Regions from separate parts of the Homo sapiens genome. Here regions 1, 2 and 4 are each linked to region 3. Evidence: fine-mapped expression QTL. A gene starts in region 3. Each other region holds a variant in brackets. All regions are shown on one strand. Distances are between the middles of the regions. Region 1 has its middle 56 kb from the start of CD164. Region 2 overlaps AK9 (adenylate kinase 9). Region 3 holds the start of CD164 (CD164 molecule). Region 4 has its middle 67 kb from the start of CD164.

Region 1 (5,152 bases), 56 kb after region 3:
TAATGGCTATAAAATGGCAACTCTCTGAGACAGAACATGGGACACAATAAGCTGTTTCTAAACTCAGCTGCCCCTTGATACATGCAGGGGACTGGGGATTGTTCCCAGGAACACCCTCAGATCCTGAATCCATGCATATTCAAATCCTGCAGTCAGCCCTGGGGAGCTCGTGGATACAAATATCTGCCCTCTGCACACGTGGTTTTCACATCCCGAATGCTGTATTTTCTATCCTCATCTGGTTGAAAAAAAATCTGTGTATCAGTGGACGTGCACAGTTCAAACCATGTTGTTCAAAGGTCAACTGTATGCAAAAACTAATGGGGGCTGGGCAACTGGGGATCCAAGACCCTCTGGAACATGGGAACTAGGAAGATCTCTAACCTGACTCCTAATGCAAAGATTTGGAAGAGCACCTATGAAATCCAGGGAATATTCCATTACCATAACTAAAAACCCCAAATCAAATATTAGTATCAATCCTACATCATCTTTATTTTTATTAAGGCCTTCTATGTATCTGCCAATTATTTTGGTCTAAAACAATGATCAGAAATAAATGAACAGCTATTATATTTATCTGCTTAAGTTCCTAGTGCTAGAGGGCAAAATTAACTTGAATATATAATAGTGATAAAAAAGGAGAGGAAATTCAAAAGAGAGAAGTTAGAGTTACAGATTAGAAATGTTGACAGACTGAACTTTAGCTCCAAGATTGAAGCAGCAATATGGCTGACACAGATGGGATGAGGCATATACAAAGTTCACTTGAGGCCAGGAGTTCAGACCAGTCTGGGCAACATAGTGAGACCCCATCTCCACAAAACATTTAAAATAGACAGGCATGATGGTGCATGCCTGTAGTCCTAGCTACTTGGGAGGCTGAGGTGGGAGAATCCCTTGAGCCCAGGAGGTCAAGGCTACAGTGAACCATGATTACATCGCTGCACTCCAGCCTGGGAAACAGGTTGAGATCCTTGCTCTAAAAAAAAAAATTAAAGGGGTTGCACGTGATCAGTAGCTGCAACACTAGAAAGATGGCAGAGCAAGAGCGAAGAAAAATCCCTTTGGTTCCAGAAAATCTCCTGAAAAAGAGGAAGGCTTATCAAGCTCTCAAAGCCATCCAGGCAAAGCAGGCACTTTTGGCAAAGAAGGAGCAGAGGAAAGGAAAAGGGCTCAGGTTTAAATGACTGGAATCATTCCTACATGGTTCCTGGCGGCAGAAACGTGACAAGGTGCATCTCAGATGACTAGAAGTGAAACTTCACACTTTGGAATTGCCAGATAAACATCCTTTGGCCTTTGTTGAACGCATTGAAAGGATTAATGGTGTGAGTTTACTGGTGCAGAGAACCATTGCAACACTTCACCTAAAGAAAATTTTTAGTGGTGTCTTGTAAAAGTAACCCCCCAGAACCTAAAAATGCTGCGTATAGTGGAACCTTATGTTACCTTTGGATTTCCAAATCCGAAGTCTGTCTGGCAACTCATTTTGAAACATGGAGAATCCGAGGTCAAGAATAAGACCATCCCTCTGACAGACAACACAGTGATTGAGGAGCACCTGGGGAAGTTTGGCATCATTTGCTTGGAAGACCTCATTCATGAAATTGCCTCCCCAGGGAAGCATTTCCAGGAGATGCCATGGTTCTTGCACCCTTTCCACCTCTCAGTGGCCTGTCATGCTACCAAAAATAGAGTGGGCTTCCTCAAGGAGATGGGCACACCTGGCTATCGGGGTGAACGCATCAATCAGCTTATCCGCCAGCTGAACTAGACCCAGGTGCCAAACTGCAGTAAATTTTTGTCAATGAAGTGGAAGCATGTGTTTTTGTTTTTTGGGGAATTTTTATCAAGTATGTTCAGAGAAGATTATTTCCTGCCTTATCTTCAAAAACTGGAAAGGAAGCGCCAAAGAAAAGACAGCAGCTGGCCAGGCGCGGTGGCTCACGCCTGTAATTCCAACACTTTGGGAGACTGAGGCAGGCAGATCACCTGAGGTCAAGAGTTCAAGATCAGCCTGAACAACATGGAAAAACCCTGTCTCTACTAAAAATACAAAAATTAGCCGGGCGTGATGGTGCACACCTGTAATCCCAGCTACTCGGGAGGCTGAGGCAGGAAAATCGCTTGAACCCGGGAGGCGGAGGTTGTGGTGAGTCAAGATCGCACCATTGCCCTCCAGCCTGGGCAACAAGAGCAAAACTCCGTCTCAAAAACAAAACAAAACAAAACAAAAAACAACCCAAAAAACAAAAGATAGTAGCTTATGTTCACGGCAAGCACCTCTCATCACAATCCAGTTCCAAGAAAAAATGTTAGTGTTTTCTACATTGGCTGATGCCCCGTCTGAAATCAGCACATTCCATGGAGGAAGGCGTCCGCTTTGCTGCATCGTCTATCCCAGGGTTTAATGTTGGTAAATGAGTAACTCTAGCATCTGTACAAGGCTCCCTAAGACTCCTGCAGCAGTCGACCAAGCCCAGGGACATAATTGAATCTAGAGATTCCTGGGGCCTTGCTTTGAAAAAGACTTGAAATACACATAGGAAGAAAGGCACAAAAATAAATGTTCA[C/T]TTGTCTCTGCAATAAAAAAGGTAAATAAATTTGAAAAAATATAAAAATTTAAAGAAAATAACCAGAGTTATTCAGAGGAACATTGGTTATGGCAGCAAAAGCTTGGAAGCACACAAGTGTCCACCCTTCAGGGCGTACTTAAACTATGGCATATCCTTCCAATGAAATAGTACGCAGCTGTGAAAAAAAGAAAAATTCTCCATATACTGTTATGAAAAGAAGCACAGATTGTTAAATGAAAAAGGCAAGGTGCAGAACAGTGGCCATAAAATGCCACATTTTATAAGAAAGATAACTAAAATGATAATAAAGGGGGAGGATATCCCCTCAAGCCTACTAGGATTACTACCCCAGAAACTCCCCTTTCTTCTCTATCATCATTTCTCCCCTCTTTCCTGGATCACTCACAATAGTATACATTATTTCTCTCGTCTCATAAAAACCTTTCTCTTGACCCCACTTCACCCATCAGCTATTGCCTCATTTCTTTGTACCCTGTTGTAGCAAAACTCCCAGATAGAGAAGTCTATACTTAAACTGCCTTTGACGTCTTACAAATTCTCTCTTAACCCCACTTACCTGGTTTTCACCTCCACCACTTCACTGAAACTGATTTTGTCACAAACACCAGTGATCTGCACGTGGCTAAAGCCAGTGGTTTTACTCAACTACCAGCAGCATTTCACACAATTTGTCGCTTCCTCCTGCTTGAGAAATCTCCTTCACTAGGCATTGGGACACTGCGGTGCCCTAGTTTTCCTAACTCAACGTTTGTTCTTTCTATTCCTTCTAGATGTCTTTTGCTATTTCTCCTCCCCCACCACCCCCAGCTGTTAACATTAGAGTGTCTCAGGGCTCAGCCGTGGTCCACCTCCTCACTTCTATATATATTCACTCCCTTGGCGTTCTCATCTCGTCTCACAGCTAAATACCATTCATATCCTGACAACTCGCAAATTTAGATCCAATACTCACTTGGCATGTCTTCTTGGATGTCTAAAAGGCATTTAAAACTTAATTTGTGCATAATCAAATTCCCAATCTTCCCTCCCTAACTTGCTTCACAGTTTTCCTCTCAGCTGATAGAAATTCTATCTTCCCAATTGAGAACGCTGGAGTCATAATTGGTTTTTCTTTCTCACATACCTAATAATACTGAACCCATTAGTGCCTACTTCACAATAAGCCCAGAGTTTGACCATTCACTATTTCCACTGCTCCCAAGTTTGAGCCACCATCACTCCTTTCTTCAGTTATTGCAGTAACCTCCACACCAGCTTCTTTCTACTTTCACCCTTTCTTCCTTCACAGCCTATTCTCCACACCTTAGCCAGAGAGATTCTGTCAAAATATAAGCCAGATCATGACACTCAAAATCTGAGACTTGGTCCCCACTGCATTTAGAGTAAACACAAAAGCCTCAAAAGGCCTTGCATGGTCTGCCCCCCTTCCCCCTCCCTCTCTGACTTCAACGCTTACTACTTTTTCTCCCTCACGGTCTCCACTCCAGCCACACTTAGGTCCTTGCTATTCTTTGAATATAATAGGCGTGCTCTGCATAGGGCCTTTGTATGGCTTGTTCCTTCTGTCTGGAATGCTCTTCCCTTAGATACCCTCATAGCTCAATTCCTCACCTTATTTCAAACTTTTGCTCAAAACATCACTCACTCAGTGAGGTCTACCCTAATCACCCAATTTAAAATTGCAGTGGACCCCTTCAAACCGCCGCAACACCACCCTTCCTTACTCCATTGCTTTCCTTTTTCTTATGTTATCGCTTGTTGTCTACCCCTTCCTAGATTATAAACTCAATGAAAGGAAGAATATATTCCTAAAATATTTCCTAAAATATAGTAGCCTAGGACATGGAATAGTTCCTGTAATGAAAGAATGTAAATATTTATTGAATAGTTATTGAATGAAAGAATGAATATATGCACAAAGCAGCACTGAAAGAACATGCAGAAAACTAATGAAAGTGGTTACGTACAGGTGGCAGACTAGGATGCAAGGGGGTTCATGGTGACAACAAGACTCTAAATGTATATTTTTCATCATTTTGAGTTTGGAACCATGTGCATATATTATCTGTTAAAAATAAGATACTTAAAAATAACATGACAGTGGTGGAACGATGTGAGAATGTCAACACTGCTTGACTTCCATCCACGTGGAAGAGCAAAAGCACATGTGCACGTTAATTACAATGGTAAGAACTGGCTGGATAGTGCCTACCTCCTCGTGGTGGTCCCAGGGGAATACTGAAGGGAAGCGATCTATGGAGTTGGACTTAGGAGCCACGCTCCACCTCACTCCGTTTTCTGTTAATGGGGGGTGCTGGTCATCAGCAGGGACACCTGCCAGCCTGCTCCTGCCCCAGCTGTTTCTAATTTCAGATGAGACTTCCTACCTGCACACTCAATTTACTGACAGGAGGCTCAGTGCTCCCAAGACGAAACACCTAGCACAGTCCACCCAGAAATGTGGGCACAACAGAGCCAGAGCCTCTGGTATTTGTACTTACGCTATTTACTGCCAAGTCCTGGTTTTGAAAATGGGATTCTATGTTTCTTTA
Region 2 (5,152 bases), 260 kb before region 3:
AGCCTTGTAGTATAGTTTGAAGTCAGGTAGCGTGATGCCTCCAGCTTTGTTCTTTTGGCTTAGGATTGCCTTGGCGATGCCAGCTCTTTTTTGGTTCCATATGAACTTTAAAGTAGTTTTTTCCAATTCTGTGAAGAAAGTCATTGGTAGCTTGATGGGGATGGCATTGAATCTATAAATTACCTTGGGCAGTATGGCCATTTTCACGATATTGATTGTTCCTACCCATGAGCATGGAATGTTCTTCCATTTGTTTGTGTCCTCTTTTATTTCATTGAGCAGTGGTTTGTAGTTCTCCTTGAAGAGGTCCTTCACATCCCTTGTAAGTTGGATTCCTAGGTATTTTATTCTCTTCGAAGCAATTGTGAATGGGAGTTCACTCATGATTTGGCTCTCTGTTATTGGTGTATAAGAATGCTTGTGATTTTTATACATTGATTTTGTATCCTGAGACTTTGCTGAAGTTGCTTATCAGCTTGAGGAGATTTTGGGCTGAGACGATGGGGTTTTCTAGATATGCAATCATGTCATCTGCAAACAGGGACAATTTGACTTCCTCTTTTCCTAATTGAATACCCTTTATTTCCTTCTCCTGCCTGATTGCCCTGGCCAGAACTTCCAACACTATGTTGAATAGGAGTGGTGAGAGAGGGCATCCCTGTCTTGTGCCAGTTTTCAAAGGGAATGCTTCCAGTTTGTGTCCATTCAGTATGATATTCGCTGTGGGTTTGTCATAGATAACTCTTATTATTTTGAGATATGTCCCATCAATAACTAATTTATTGAGAGTTTTTAGCATGAACGGTTGTTGAATTTTGTCAAAGGCCTTTTCTGCATCTGTTGAGATAATCATGTGGTTTTTGTCTTTGGTTCTGTTTATATGTTGGATTACATTTATTGATTTGCATATATTGTACCAGCCTTGCATCCCAGGGATGAAGCCCACTTGATCATGGTGGATAAACTTTTTGATGTGCTGCTGGATTCGGTTTGCCAGTATTTTATTGAGGATTTTTGCATCGATGTTCATCAAGGATATTGGTCTAAAATTCTCTTTTTTGGTTGTGTCTCTGCCAGTCTTTGGTATCAGGATGATGCTGACCTCATAAAATGAATTAGGGAGGATTCCCTCTTTTTCTATTGATTGGAATAGTTTCAGAAGGAATGGTACCAGCTCCTCTTTGTACCTTTGGTAGAATTTGGCTGTGAATCCATCTGGTCCTGGACTCTTTTTGTTTGGTAAGCTATTGATTATTGCGTCAATTTCAGAGCCTGTTATTGGTCTATTCAGAGATTCAACTTCTTCCTGGTTTAGTCTTGGGAGGGTGTATGTGTCGAGGAATTTATCTATTTCTTCTAGATTTTCTAGTTTATTTGTGTAGAGGTATTTATAGTATTCTCTTATGATAGTTTCTATTTCTGTGGGATTGGTGGTGATATCCCCTTTATCATTTTTTATTGTGTCTATTTGATTCTTCTCTCTTTTCTTCTTTATTAGTCTTGCTAGCGTTCTATCAATTTTGTTGATCTTTTCAAAAAACTAGCTCCTGGATTCATTGATTTTTTGAAGGATTTTTTTGTGTCTCTATTTCCTTCAGTTCTGCTCTGATCTTAGTTATGTCTTACCTTCTGCTAGCTTTTCAATGTGTTTGCTCTTGCTTTTCTAGTTCTTTTAATTGTGATGTTAGGGTGTCAATTTTAGATCTTGCCTGCTTTCTCTTGTGGGCATTTAGTGCTATAAATTTCCCTCTACTCACTGCTTTGAATGTGTCCCAGAGATTCTGGTATGTTGTGTCTTTGTTCTCGTTGGTTTCAAAGAACATCTTTATTTCTGCCTTCATTTCATTATGTACCCAGTAGTCATTCAGGAGCAGGTTGTTCAGTTTCCATGTAGTTGAGCGGTTTTGAGTGAGTTTCTTAATCCTGAGTTCTAGTTTGATTGCACTGTGGTCTGAGAGACAGTTTGTTATAATTTCTGTTCTTTTACATTTGCTGAGGAGTTCTTTACTTCCAACTATGTGGTCAGTTTTGGAGTAGGTGTGGTGTGGTG[C/TGGTGC]TGAGAAGAATGTATATTCTGTTGATTTGGGGTGGAGAGTTCTGTAGATGTCTATTAGATCTGCTTGTTGCAGAGCTGAGTTCAATTCCTGGGTATCCTTGTTAACTTTCTGTCTCGTTGATCTGTCTAATGTTGACAGTGGGGTGTTAAAGTCTCCCATTATTATTGTGTGGGAGTCTAAGTTTCTTTGTAAGTCACTAAGGACTTGCTTTATGAATCTGGGTGCTCCTGTATTGGGTGCATATATATTTAGAATAGTTAGCTCTTATTGTTGAACTGATCCCTTTACCATTATGTAATGGCCTTCCTTGTCTCTTTTGATCTTTGTTGGTTTCAAGTCTGTTTTATCAGAGACTAGGATTGCAACCCCTGCCTTTTTTTGTTTTCCATTTTCTTGGTAGATCTTCCTCCATCCCTTTATTTTGAGCCTATGTGTGTCTCTGCACGTGAGATGGGTCTCCTGAATACAGCACACTGATGGGTCTTGACTCTTTATCCAATTTGCCAATCTGTGTCTTTTAATTGGAGCATTTAGCCCATTTACATTTAAAGTTAATATTGTTATTTGTGAATTTGATCCTGTCATTATGATGTTAGCTGGTTATTTTGCTCGTTAGCTGATGCAGTTTCTTCCTAGCCTTGATGCTCTTTACAACTTGGCATGTTTTTTCAGTGACTGTTACTGGTTGTTCCTTTCCATGCTTAGTGTTTCCTCAGGAGCTCTTGTAAGGCGGGCCTGGTGGTGACAAAATCTCTCAGCATTTGCTTGTCTGTAAAGGATTTTATTTCTCCTTCAGTTATGAAGCTTAGTTTGGCTGGATATGAAATTCTGGGTTGAAAATTATTTTCTTTAAGAATGTTGAATATTGGCCCCCACTCTCTTCTGGCTTGTGGAGTTTCTGCCAAGAGATCCACTGTTAGTCTGATGGGCTTCTCTTTGTGGGTAACCCAACCTTTCTCTCTGGCTGCCCTTAACATTTTTTCCTTCATTTTAACCTTGGTGAATCTGACAATTATGTGTCTTGGGGTTGCTCTTCTCAAGGAGTATCTTTGTAGCGTTCTCTGTATTTCCTGAATTTGAATGTTGGCCTGCCTTGCTAGGTTGGGGAAGTTTTCCTGGATAATATCCTGAAGAGTGTTTTCCAACTTAGGTCTGTTCTCCCTGTCACTTTCAGGTACACCAATCAAACTTAGGTTTGGTCTTTTCACATAGTCCCATATTTCTTGGAGGCTCTTTCATTTCTTTTTACTCTTTTTTTTCTAAACTTCTTGCTTCATTTCATTCATTTGATCTTCAATCACTGGTACCCTTTCTTCCACTTGATTGAATCAGCTACTGAAGCTTGTGCATGCATCACGTAGTTCTCATGCCATGGTTTTCAGCTCCATCATGTCATTTAAGGTCTTGTCTACCCTGTTTATTCTAGTTAGCCATTCGTCTAACCTTTTTTCAAGGTTTTTACCTTCCTTGCAATGGGTTCAAACATCCTCCTTTAGCTCAGAGAAGTTTGTTATTACCGACCTTCTGAAGCCTACTTCTGTCAACTTGTCAAAGTCATTCTCCGTCCAGCTTTCTTCCATTGCTGGTGAGGGGCTGCAATCCTTTGGAGGATTAGAGGCACTCTGGTTTTTAGAATTTTCAGCTGTTCTGCTCTGGTTTCTCCCCATCTTTGTGATTTTATCTACCTTTGGTCTTTGATGATGGTGACTTACAGATGGGGTTTTGGTGTCGATGTCCTTTTTGTTGATGTTGATGCTACTGTTTTCTGTTTGTTAGTTTTCCTTCTAACAGTTAGGACCCTCAGCTGCAGGTCTGTTGGAGTTTGCTGGAGGTCCACTCTATGGATACCCTGTTTGCCTGGGTATCACCAGCGAACGCTGTAGAACAGAACATCAAATATTGCAGAACAGCAAATGTTGCTGCCTGATCCTTCCTCTGGAAGCTTCATCTCAGAGGAGCTCTTGGCTGTATGAGGTGTCAGTGAGCCCCTACTGGGAGGTGTCTCCAAGTTAGGCTACTCAAGGGTCAGAGACCCACTTGAGGAGGCAGTCTCTCCATTCTCAGAGCTCAAACTCTGTGCTGGGAGAACCACTGCTGTCTTCAAAGCTGTCAGACAGGGACGTTTAAGTCTGCACAAGTTTCTGCTGCCTTTTGTTCAGCTATGCCCTGCCCCCAGAGGTGGAGTCTACAGAGGCAGGCAGGCCTCGTTGAGCTGTGGTGGGCTCCACCCAGTTTGAGCTTCTGGCTGCTTTGTTTACCTAGTCAAGCCTCAGCAATGGCGGATGCCCCTCGCCCAGCCTGGCTGCTGCCTCGCAGTTGGATCTTGGACTGCTGTGCTAGCAGTGAGCAAGGCTCTGTGGGCATGGGGTGCTCTGAGCCAGGCGCAGCATATAATCTCCTGGTGTGCCATTTGCTAAGACTGTTGGAAAAGCGCAGTATTAGGGCAGGAGTGTCCCGATTTTCCAGGTACCCTTGGAAACACTTTCCCTTGGCTAGGAAAGCGAAATCCCCCCACCCCTTGTGCTTCCCAGGTGAAGTGATGCCCTGCCCTGCTTCGGCTCGCCCTCCATGGGCTGCACCCACTGTCCAACCAGTCCCATTGAGATGAACCAAGTACCTCAGTTGGAAATGCAGAAATCACCCATCTTCTGCATCGATCACGCTGGGAGCTGTAGACCGGAACTGTTCCTATTTGGCCATCTTGGAACGATCAAAATACGTTGTATCTTCTAAATGATGCTAGTATCTATGTGAAGAAAGTCTGTGACTTAAAGTTTAATCAGATGCTTCCATGGTTTAGAAACCAAATAGCAAAGCTATGAACATATGCAGATAGATGCCCCAAAACATTTTGTATTGGAAAAAACATTAAGGCATCAAAGTAGAGAAAAAAGATTTTTTTAAACAGGAAAATAAAATTCATGGTGAGAAGATTAGTTTGAGCTTTTGCAAAAGATCTCTTGAGCATTGAAAATAACATACATTATAGCATGTATAAGGCAAACAATTTACTTTAAATATATCTGCACAGTATATTAAGATTCTGATCTTGTATTCAGTTTTTCTAGTGATCCTGTATTATAAAGTTTCTTTTCTATTAT
Region 3 (5,152 bases):
AAGTTCAAGTCTCCCTTGGCCCTCACACACTTGATTTCCCACCCCTGAATGCCTATAAGATTTACTGTCATATTCTTACAGTGAATGGATTCCCTTTAACATAAGCTAGTACAAGGGGGTTTGTACTTCTTGCTATCAAGTAGTGGAGGCAAACCTCTGATTATTAAGGGGCCACTGGATGTTAGTTATAGCTAGAAGGCAGGGTCCTGTTTGGAGTGTTGATCTGTTTATTTGGGGAAAGGTACTGACACAAGGCTGAAGCATTGTTTAAAAATCTGCTGTTTAAAAAACTTAGAGGGAGCTTATACTGCTAGAAGATTCACAAGCGCAGAAGCACTCTGTCTTGCTGCTTTCAAGAAAATAAATGGTTAAGAAGGTCGCTCTAACAACCAATCGACAATCTAATTGCAAGCAATGTGTCTAAGAGGAAATAACCTGAGTGATGGCTGACCTTGCACACAGAAGAACGCTCTGAGGGTGCCTTTCAATTGTGATTTTACCCCCAGGAGACATTTAACAATATCGGGAGATATTTTTGGTTGTCACAACTGAGAGGTGGGGTGCTTCTGGTATCTAGTGTGTAGAGGCTACGAATACTGCCGAATATCCAACAATGCACAGGACAAGCAAGAATGAGTCAGCCTGAAATCTTGATAGCGCCAAGATTGAGAAACCCTGCTCTATGACAACAATAAACAGAAGCTTACTGTCAGGAACTGAAAAAAAAAAAGCTGTCTCTCTGAAATGGTGAAAATGACTTTGGAACTCCCTTGATCTACCTCTACAGTTGCCATGCAAAATAAAATAAACCAATGGTTTTCTAGTCTTAAAACAAGAGCGTGAAATGTCCCTTTATCAGGACTGAGGAATATCTGAGGACTAGAGTTAAACATCCAGGTGACAAATTGTTAAACAATGGTCTGCACAGAGGAGTGTGTTTATCCTAGGGTGGAAAGAAGATAACACACCAAGCTCTGAGAACAGAGCTTCTATTTACATTTTTTTTTTTTTTTTTTTTTTTGAGACGAGTCTGGCTCTGTTCCCCAAGCTGGAGTGCAGTGGTGTGATCTCGGCTCACTGCAACCTCCGCCTCCCGGATACAAGCGATCCTCCTGCCTCAGCCCTGCTAGTAGCTGGGATTACAGGCACGTGCCACCATGCCCGGCTAATTTTTGTATTTTTAGGAGAGACGGGGTTTACACCATGTTGGCCAAGCTGGTCTCAAACTCCGGACCTCAGGTGATCCACCCGCCTTGGCCTCCCAAAGTGCTGGCATTACAGGCGTGAGCCACCGCGTCCGGCCCCTATTTACATTCTTAACCTTAAAAAAAAATTAAAGTTGCCTTGCGCTTTCATTTGGTCTGGGTGCCAGATAGTCAAGTGTTAAATATAGAGAGAGGCCTCCTGAGAGAAGAGCAGACACTTCTCTGAAGGGCTTATGGTGGGAGCTCACTTCCCTGACAGCATTCTCATGCTTCTGGGCTGGATCAGTCAAAACTATCAGCTTTTTGTTTACATCCAAGCAACACTACTCCAACTAGCGTAGTCATTGGAACAAATGTTCATAGTCCTGAGGGTACAGAAGGACGACACTGAAAAGATCCCAAGGGGAAATAAAATCTTTCTATTTGAGCAAAAAGGTAAAAGCACTATGTAGTCATCTTTTTTGGCACATCAAAAAAGTCATCGTGGCACATCAAGACAGACCTCACGAAAGCAATTAATATTCCTATATTATTAGGATAACTTTGCATAATTAAAATTACATAAGTGTACAACAGCTGAAAACACAGCATTAAATACAACTTTTAAAGTCTAATTTTTACCATGTGATAACCGTATCAAATTTTGCGAATATTTTGTGAGACTTGGCAGTAGATGGCGCTCACCTTTACTAAAAGTCTGAGCAGCGCCTTAACACTAACAGGAACTTAAGAATCCAGCTCTGATGTCAGGCAATCCCGTGTCCAGGTCAGGTCACTTTTTTAAGTCTCAGTTTCCTCACTGGTAATGTGGGGGTGGGGGCCTCCCCAATGACCTCGCAACTCAGACCGCTTTTGATTCTCTGACTACAGTGGTGGAGTTGAGACAGGTCGGCTGCTGCAACCGCCGTCTGAAATAGCAATCCGGAAAAGTCAGGTTGGGAAAGTGACAGAGTAGACGCCCTGCGGCTCTGATCCGGGCGGCGCCTCAGCTGCCCACACTATGTGGGCGGCAACGCACAAACTCCTTAACCACGTGGTGCCTCCATTCCCCTAGGGAGTCCCATCACAGGATAACTTCTAGCAAAATCAATCTTCAAGAAAAAAAGAAGGGGTCCTGCCGAAGATATAAGGAAGCTCCCTGGGGATCCCGCAGCACAGCACAAACTTAGTTCTTGAGAGCCGCACAAAACCAACTTCCGCCCCAGTGGAGTTGCGTCCGGAAGGCGCGGCCCCGGAGGTCACGTGGGCCCGCGGAATTACAGCCTGGCGGGGCGCTCAGGTGGAAGCAGTAGGCCACATTATGTCGACTGTTCCATGCAAGTCAGGGTGGGGGCCGTCCCTATCGCAGGCATGAGACAAGTCCAGCTGCGTCGTGTCTGGTAATCTGAGGGCAAGAAGAACGATTTGCAGAAGCTCCCAGTTTTCTTGGCTGTGGCACAGTCGCTTTGAGGGCCAGGTTCCTTCGGCTTCCTCCCGACTCCCCTGCTTCCCCCCGTAGGATTCCCGTTGGTATCGTCCGAGCCCCACCTCCCTCCTCTTCGCCCCCGCACGCCGAAAACAGGGGCCTCTCACGTGACCCCTGCGCGCTCCCGCGGGGGAGCGTAGTCTCGGAGGCGGCGCCGCAGGGGATTGAGGGGTTGACTGAGCGTTGCGAGCCTTAGCTTTCTCCCGAACGCCAGCGCTGAGGACACGATGTCGCGGCTCTCCCGCTCACTGCTTTGGGCCGCCACCTGCCTGGGCGTGCTCTGCGTGCTGTCCGCGGACAAGAACACGACCCAGCACCCGAACGTGACGACTTTAGCGCCCATCTCCAACGTAACCTCGGCGCCGGTGACGTCCCTCCCGCTGGTCACCACTCCGGCACCAGGTGGGCGCGGGCCCTGTGGGCTTCCCGCCCTCCCCTGCCCAGCCGAGCCGCACTGCCTCCTCGCCGTGCGGGCGGGGCCCGGGTTCGGGCCACGGTCGGGCGGGCGGGCCGCGCTCGGGGTGCGGCGGCGACTCCGGCAACATGGCGGCCAGCCTGGAGTCCACTCGTGGCCGGGCCGGGTGGGGAGCGCGCTGGGGGGAAGCGGACGCGCGGTTCCCAGTGGCTGCGGGGCTGGGGCCCCCCTCGAAGTGTTGCAAGTCGAGGTGCCTTTTAAAAGTGCATCGTAATTCCTAGCCTCACTTGGGGTCGGAAATGGGGACGTGGCTTCCTTCCGCGGGGGCAGCGGTGGGGTTGAGGATGGGGCCGGGCGTCGCGCCTCTGAGGTTGGCGGTGGGGCCGAGCTGCCTCTCCCTGCCACTGGTTGTTCACCCTCCCGGCGCCTCTCTCCGGAGGTAGCCTTCTCCGGAAGTCCGGGAAAGAGAAACTTAAAGACGGTAATGCTCGTTCGTGTCTCAGACTTGAGTCTGAGAAGGTCGCTTGAGATTTAATTACATTGGTTTTGCAGATAGGAATAGAATGTAGCTGACGTTTGAGCACGTAGTTAGTGAAAACTTCACACTTCAAAGTATGCGAAAAGGAAGAAAAGTACCCATGTATGTACCGGGTGTTTTGCGTACGTATCCTAAGGCTAAACTGGAAGGTAGGTAGTGAAACCTAGGAGGTAGATGCAGAGACGGAGATGAGTAAACTCTCCTGACATTGTATGTTTATTCTTTTTTCAATTGTTTTTAAAATTTTCTTAACTATGTCCTGTGCTCAGATAGCGTATGTTTAGTAGGTCGTGGAACGGGGGTTTGTGCCCAGGTCTGTGGGTTTTCTAAAACCCGATCAGGAGCGTGTCTTTTGTTATGTGCAGTCGCATAGGGCTGGTTAAGGCATACATACATTTTAAAGCAGAAATTGCCATATACCGTGACAACACAAAAGAGAGAAGGAAGATAAGTTTGAGGTAATAAGCGGGAGAAACACTAGAGGTTTAAAACCTGCAGTCTCGTATGATTGGTTATTCTAGTTAACATTAGTTAAGGAGTAATGTTTACGTAGTTAACATTGGCTTCTTGACCGAAGAATGCCGAAGTGTAATGATTTTTATCACGGCATTCATATTCTACAAATTCTCCTCTAGTTTTAGTATTTTATAAAAGTTTAATAAAGTATATAGTAAACTTAATGTTTTGTTTTTAGTTTAAGGAAGATGTAATGGTAACATTTCAAAACGAGGGAAGTAAATTGCAGTATAATACTGGGAATTCTAACCGCACTATTTTAAGATGATAGAGCAGAATATGTTTGTCTCAGTCTTAATTTGACAGTTTCCTTTCAGAATTGTAGTGTGTGTGTAAGAGAAGGTTGGAAGTATCAAATTAATTTGTCTTTGTGTAATTGAAGTGCGTGCAAAGGAGGTATGTATTTTCTGGAAATCATAAGTGGATGTAGTGTGGTCTGAAAGGTAGCAAGTTTAGTTCATTGTAAAGAACATTTCAGACATTTCACTTTGCTACACCCGTCAAGCACAAAGGTTTTTAAACAGCATGTTTTATCTATACAAACTTCAGAAAATTTATTTTTACTTTATGAACCCTTCCCCACCCCACCGTACATGTCCCAGTCTTTAATAAGTACTAATGATGAAGTATTGAAAGCAGTGCCTCTGCAGAACTATTTTTTAGGCAGGAGCAAAGCAAACGAGAATGTTTGGAGGCATCTAGTTTCTAGGAAAATGAATGGAGCCCAATTCTTTTTTTTCTTTTATTTTGCTGCTTTTTCTCACTGGAAAATAGAGCCCAATTTTATAGTCCGTTCTTCTCCAGAAATTGAATTATGGTGATGAGTACTTGTTTCTGGATTGTTTGGCCTAGGATGAACTATTGACAAATACCTTGTTAACCTGAATTGTATGCACTTGAATATGGGCTTTTAGATGTTGTCTCCAGTTGTGGAGGATCCTGTCGAGAGTGGATCATTTATGAATCGAGAATCCCTGGGAAATTATCTTTGTTTGCAGCAGAATGGGCATCAT
Region 4 (5,152 bases), 67 kb after region 3:
AGACCCCCATAAGCACCCAGTGGCCCTGCCTGTGTCTCAGTGCATGAATACGCATGACCCGCCAGCTACCAGACTGAGGCACCGGGCCCTGCCTGGGGATGAGAAGTTGAGTCAGGCATCTCCCCTTCCCACCACCCCAATCCACTGTGGAAAGGCAACCCCCAAGAGTACTGCAACCTCTGTCCTGAGAGACTCTAGGTACCCAAGGTGGGCAGGAGGCTTGCCCTCACTGAGCTACCCATTGAACACATGGTGGTGCTGCCAGCCTAAGACCCCTGAGATGCTGCCAGGTGCACACGCCTGACCTTGACCCTCCCTGTGCCAAGGTCCCCGTCCCCTCTGGGTACAGGGAGGGTCAAGGTCAGACGTGTGCACCCGGCAGCATCTCAGGGGTCCCAGGCTGGCAGCAACACCATGCGTTCAATGGGTAGCTCAGGAAGGGTAAGCCTCCTGCCCACTTTAGGTACCTAGAATTGTAACTTTGAACAAATTCAAAGGTAAACCATTAAAAGTTTCAGGATGGTGATCACAGAACATGAAATCTCAAGTGCCCCTCTGCATCCTGTGTGTCACATGCCCGTGAAGTGGCCCCAAGTTTGGACCTCAGATGGAAGGAACCATTCTGATTGCCTTCATACCCTAAATATACAAATTTGACATATCATAACTTATATATGTTACAAATAAGAAAGGCTTTAGGTTTCCCTTCATTTCAACTTTATTTCAGTTATGAGTTAATCAGTAGAGTTGAAACTGAAGTGAAACTATGTTTTCCATTTGTTTAAAAAAGCCTTTGTACAGGGAAAGAAATATACCAAAGGGCTTTGTGTCTTGTTGCAGGTTCTGTAACTAGAGCTCAACCACACTCAGCTCTCTGGTGGCATTTAGAGACACCCAGCTGGGGAGAGGCTTGCCCTTTCATTGCACAGGGTCAAGGGTAAAAGGTCATTTTTATATCATTTTCCGGGCATCGCACCGATGTTTTGGTTTTTGCTTGTTTTTACAACAAATGTCGATACATGAATTGCTTTCGTAATTAGGAAAAACCAATAAACATTATTTTGTGAAGTAACAAAATAAATGTACTTTACCTGTAGGGAGAGAACACTCCTCCTTGCACTTTTCTGATAAAACCAGTGTCATTTCTCTGTTAACTTTTCTTAGTACCTCTTGGATCATTTGAATTTCACAATTTTCCAGAAGTTTTTGAAGCTAGAGTAAGCATAGGTTGAGGGTCACTCACTACATTCAGATTATATTTTGGGTCCCGTGTCACATTCCTGCAGAAGGGCTTTGGGCTAGGGCCTGTCCCTCAGCTACTCTCCCGGGAAAGAAGGAACACTTCCCTTCTAGGTCTCCCAAGTGCTTCTGGGGGCACAGATGTACCTCCCTGGAGACTAGCACCTTTTCTTCCTGGCTCACATCCTCATTGATAAAATACAATCCTTTTTTTTTTTTTAACCAAGTTTTGCTAAATTGCAAAGTGTCTAATCCCTGGGGTGACCTCATGTCTTCCGGGGTCTCTAAATGTGGCTAGGATTCTGTGAGTTCTCATTACAAAAGAAGCTCTCAGCCGGGCACAATGGCTCACACCTGTAATCTCAACACTTTGGGAGGCCGAGGCAGGTGGATCACAAGGTCAGGAGTTCGAGACCAGCCTAGCCAAGATGATGAAACCCCATCTCTACTAAAAATAAAAAAATTAGCCGGGCGCCTGTAATCCCAGCTACTCGGGAGACTGAGGCAGGAGAATTGCTTGAACCTGAGAGGCGGAGGTTGCAGTGAGCTGAGATCGCGCCACTGCACTCTAGCCTGGGCGACAGAGCAAGACTCAAAAAAAAAAAAGAAGCCCTCAGGTATAAAACTTGATTTAGATACCAAGGAAGATTTCACAAGATTTAAAACTCCATGTAGGACCAACAGTAAAGTCTTCCAAAAACTGTGAGCCCTCACTCAATCCATTATGCTTGCAGAGTGTAGGTTTCTCCCTGTTGAAGGCCCCCAGGTACTGGAAAGGAATAGGGCTCAGAAGGGTAAGCAGTGAGCTTGGCACTGGGGCCTGACAGGGGCTGACTTCTCCTTGTTGCTCAGTGGATGAGCATCTGTGCATTGACAACCGAACAGCCGAGGCTTTGCTTGCCTGGTACAATAAGCCCAGCCACAGAG[C/T]GCGTGAGTCCCAGGATCAAGCTGAACAAAGACTCGGGAAAACAACTTCTCCACACAGATCATCTTACACATACCAAATGGGCATTTTCTTATTCTCAGAAAAACAATTACAGGGAGCTTTTACAAATATTTCATTTCCATGTGAATACTTGCATGCTAAATTTTATGCTTAAGATAGTGGTTATGTTTTCTATGATCATTCTTATGAAGGTACACATCAATTTGAGGAAAATCAAAATGATAAAAATCCAGACTTATAGAACAGGGACATTAAGGGTAGTAATTTGCTTCATCGAAGCACCACATGGCTTTAAATACTTAGTCCTGCCCTCCCTCCAGCCCATTCAATGATTTACAACCCTGCAATTTACACTCAGCTTCTTGGAAAAAATACCATTTGGGTATGCCTGTAGTTTTACATGCTAATGCCATAAAGGACATTTTCAAAGGCAAATTTAAAATATATCCTGCATACTTGGTGAGTTTTTATTTCAACTTCTGAGGCTCCACTGGGGGGAAGAACAGACTGATTATTTACTATAAATCCTTCAAATTCATCTTCTTTCCCCATCTGCCTGGCTATAGCTTTCATGCTGGGGTAGAGAACGTCAGTTCTATTAAAGAAGAAAGACAGAAATTAGCAAACATATTTTTTCTCATTTCAATTCTCTGATAATTATTTTCATTCATTTTCTCTTTCCTATCATCAGTATCCTAACCCATTCACAGATACATCAACATTTAATTCACCACAGTTATCATTCCTTAGCCACATGAAATCGTGAGGCTTTTTCCCATTGGGTGCATATAATTTCAGTCCTCATTCTTCAAAATATTGACAAGTCTTCACCTTCCCTAGTTATCAGGGACACTGACTATAATAATTTCACAAGATAAACAATCTGGCTGTACCAAAGTGAACTTTTTGTTGTTGTTATTGTTGTTGTTGTTGTTTGTTTTTGTTTTTTGAGAGGGAGTTTCACACTTGTTGCCCAGGCTGGAGTGCAATGGTGCGATCTCAGCTCACTGCAACCTCCGCCTCCTGGGTTCAAGCCATTCTTCTGCCTCAGCCTCCCGAGTAGCTGGGATTACAGGTACCCACCATCACACCTGGTCAATTTTTTGTATTTTTAGTAGAGACAGGGTTTCACCGTGTTGGCCAGGCTGGTCTCAAACTTCTGACCTCAGGTAATCCACCCGCCTCAGCCTCCCCAAGTGCTGGGATTACAGCTGTGAGCCACCACGCCTGGCCTAAAGCAAACGTTCTTAAGCTTGGTAAGGCCCAGGGTGTATGGGGGTGCTTAGCAAATGTTCGTTTGTTAACAGACACGTGGCAGAAGCAACACGCCTTCCCAGCCAGCTACGTCATTCGAGCCAGGGCCTGCAGCTGCTAGAATGCCTCCCATTCCTCAGACTTGTGCCGCATGTGCCATCTGTATATCTCTGGCTGCAATGCCACAAGCTCTGAGAGACTCAGTCCGTGGGTCTAACGGGTCATATTAGGATTCATGGACCAAATCTCGCCCTCAGACTAAGGGCAGGAATCTGCCATCCCCCAGGTTCTAGTCATGGCCATGAATTTCAGCATCAGCAACACTCACTCATAGAGCTCTGAAAACCGTTTGTGGAGAGAGACAGAGTTGATATCCTGGCCTTGCAGCTTGAGTCGGCCCCAGTGCTCCTTTAGCACTTCCAGCTGCTTCCACAGTATCAGAAATGATCTCAGCAAAGCAAAGGACATCACCGCATCGCACAGGCCCTCCAGCAGCTCAGAGGTCTTTGGGCTGCTTCGGAACTGACTTCTGAATCCTGGCACTTTGGACCAATCTGGCTGAAAGCATTATGGAAATCCTTCTTTATTGATCATGGACCAACACAGGCTAACCTTTCACATGCAGCCTGTGCAAAACAAAGTCTTTGGAGAATTAACTTTTTCCCCAGGAGGAATGGTTTACAGGCCCACAGCACATATAGAGTTGAGAGAGGTTGACCATCCTTCATGAACAGTTTATGGAAAGGATAGGAATGTCTCAACTGCAGCTTTTTGCTTGGGTCTGGAACCATTCATTTTGAAAACTCGCTTACTTGCATACTAACGTTTTATCTGCCTTTGAAAAACTGAGCCTTTTGTGTTTTCCCTCTGCATTCTGGAAAGTGCTCTTCAATATACCTGAGATTAAAGTTCCCATCACGGTGGGGCCAAGAAGTAACTTTCCATTCAGGATTTTACCCATCTTATGGGTAAAGAAATAGAAAGTTAATTTATCCTACCTCCTGTTTCTTCTCCTCTTTTAGAAGTTAGGCAGGAAACATTTCTCTTAATTAGAATTTATCATTCAATAAGAAAGATTACTTTAAAATTATGATTTCTTCATTTATTCATTGGTGCTTTCCTTAAGTAAATAATTGTGGAGGGGCTGCTATGAGCCCTGGAGGACATGGAGGAAACAAGGTATTCAGGTCCTTGTTTGTCCTGCTGTCCTGCAGCCAGCGGTCTGAGGGCCAGGGTCACCCAGAGTGAGGAACAAAATGAGGATCACGTCCAGGCCCACTGCCTGTACATAGTGTCTCAGTCACAGAAAAAGGAGCTCTTCTTGGCAGACCAGGTTGGCAAATCCCATGACGTTATGATAAAAAGAGGCTTAGAGAGCATTTAGGTGACAGTACCCGAGACACTCACGTTTCCTGGCTAGAAACAGGGAGAACAACCTGGTATAATTGGATCCTAGAGCAGTGGTATTAACATATCTAAGGAAAAGCCTGCCTGCCAGGAAGAGTATTGGTCAAATTGTCCAAGGAAGAATTGATAAGCAAGAACCAGGGGAGAGCGAGTTCCTGTAGACTGCTGGTAACTCCTCAGTCTTGTAGCCTGCCTCCCCAACAATCAGCTAGTGCATGGATTTCCAGATTTTATTTTATCCTCAGAGCTCTTTCATCAAATGAATTCTTACACACTGGCCCAAATATTCAACAGACCAAGGCCAAG

The links. PIP is the estimated chance that this variant, and not a neighbour inherited with it, causes the effect.
Region 1: its variant is the best candidate, but not a certain one, in a credible set for the expression of CD164 in thyroid (GTEx, PIP 0.53).
Region 2: its variant is the best candidate, but not a certain one, in a credible set for the expression of CD164 in whole blood (INTERVAL, PIP 0.83).
Region 4: its variant is the best candidate, but not a certain one, in a credible set for the expression of CD164 in spinal cord (GTEx, PIP 0.59).

The regions. Positions count from the first base shown.
Region 1 is chr6:109,323,800-109,328,951 of GRCh38, reverse strand. It overlaps the pseudogene CCDC162P and the pseudogene RPL7P28. Among named protein-coding and RNA genes, the nearest start is that of CD164, 56 kb to the left of the region's middle. RefSeq lists an enhancer at 1-367. The variant C/T (reference allele first, on the strand shown) is at 2,577.
Region 2 is chr6:109,644,695-109,649,846 of GRCh38, reverse strand. All of the region lies in intron 8 of AK9 (adenylate kinase 9), which reads left to right. Among named protein-coding and RNA genes, the nearest start is that of AK9, 44 kb to the left of the region's middle. The variant C/TGGTGC (reference allele first, on the strand shown) is at 2,051.
Region 3 is chr6:109,380,124-109,385,275 of GRCh38, reverse strand. It overlaps CD164 (CD164 molecule), which reads left to right and starts at 2,809. Exons shown (of 6, transcript NM_006016.6): 1 at 2,809-3,072. The coding sequence starts at 2,898. RefSeq lists enhancers at 2,192-2,421, 2,502-2,851, 2,407-2,916 and a silencer at 3,072-3,351.
Region 4 is chr6:109,312,908-109,318,059 of GRCh38, reverse strand. It overlaps the pseudogene CCDC162P. Among named protein-coding and RNA genes, the nearest start is that of CD164, 67 kb to the left of the region's middle. The variant C/T (reference allele first, on the strand shown) is at 2,167.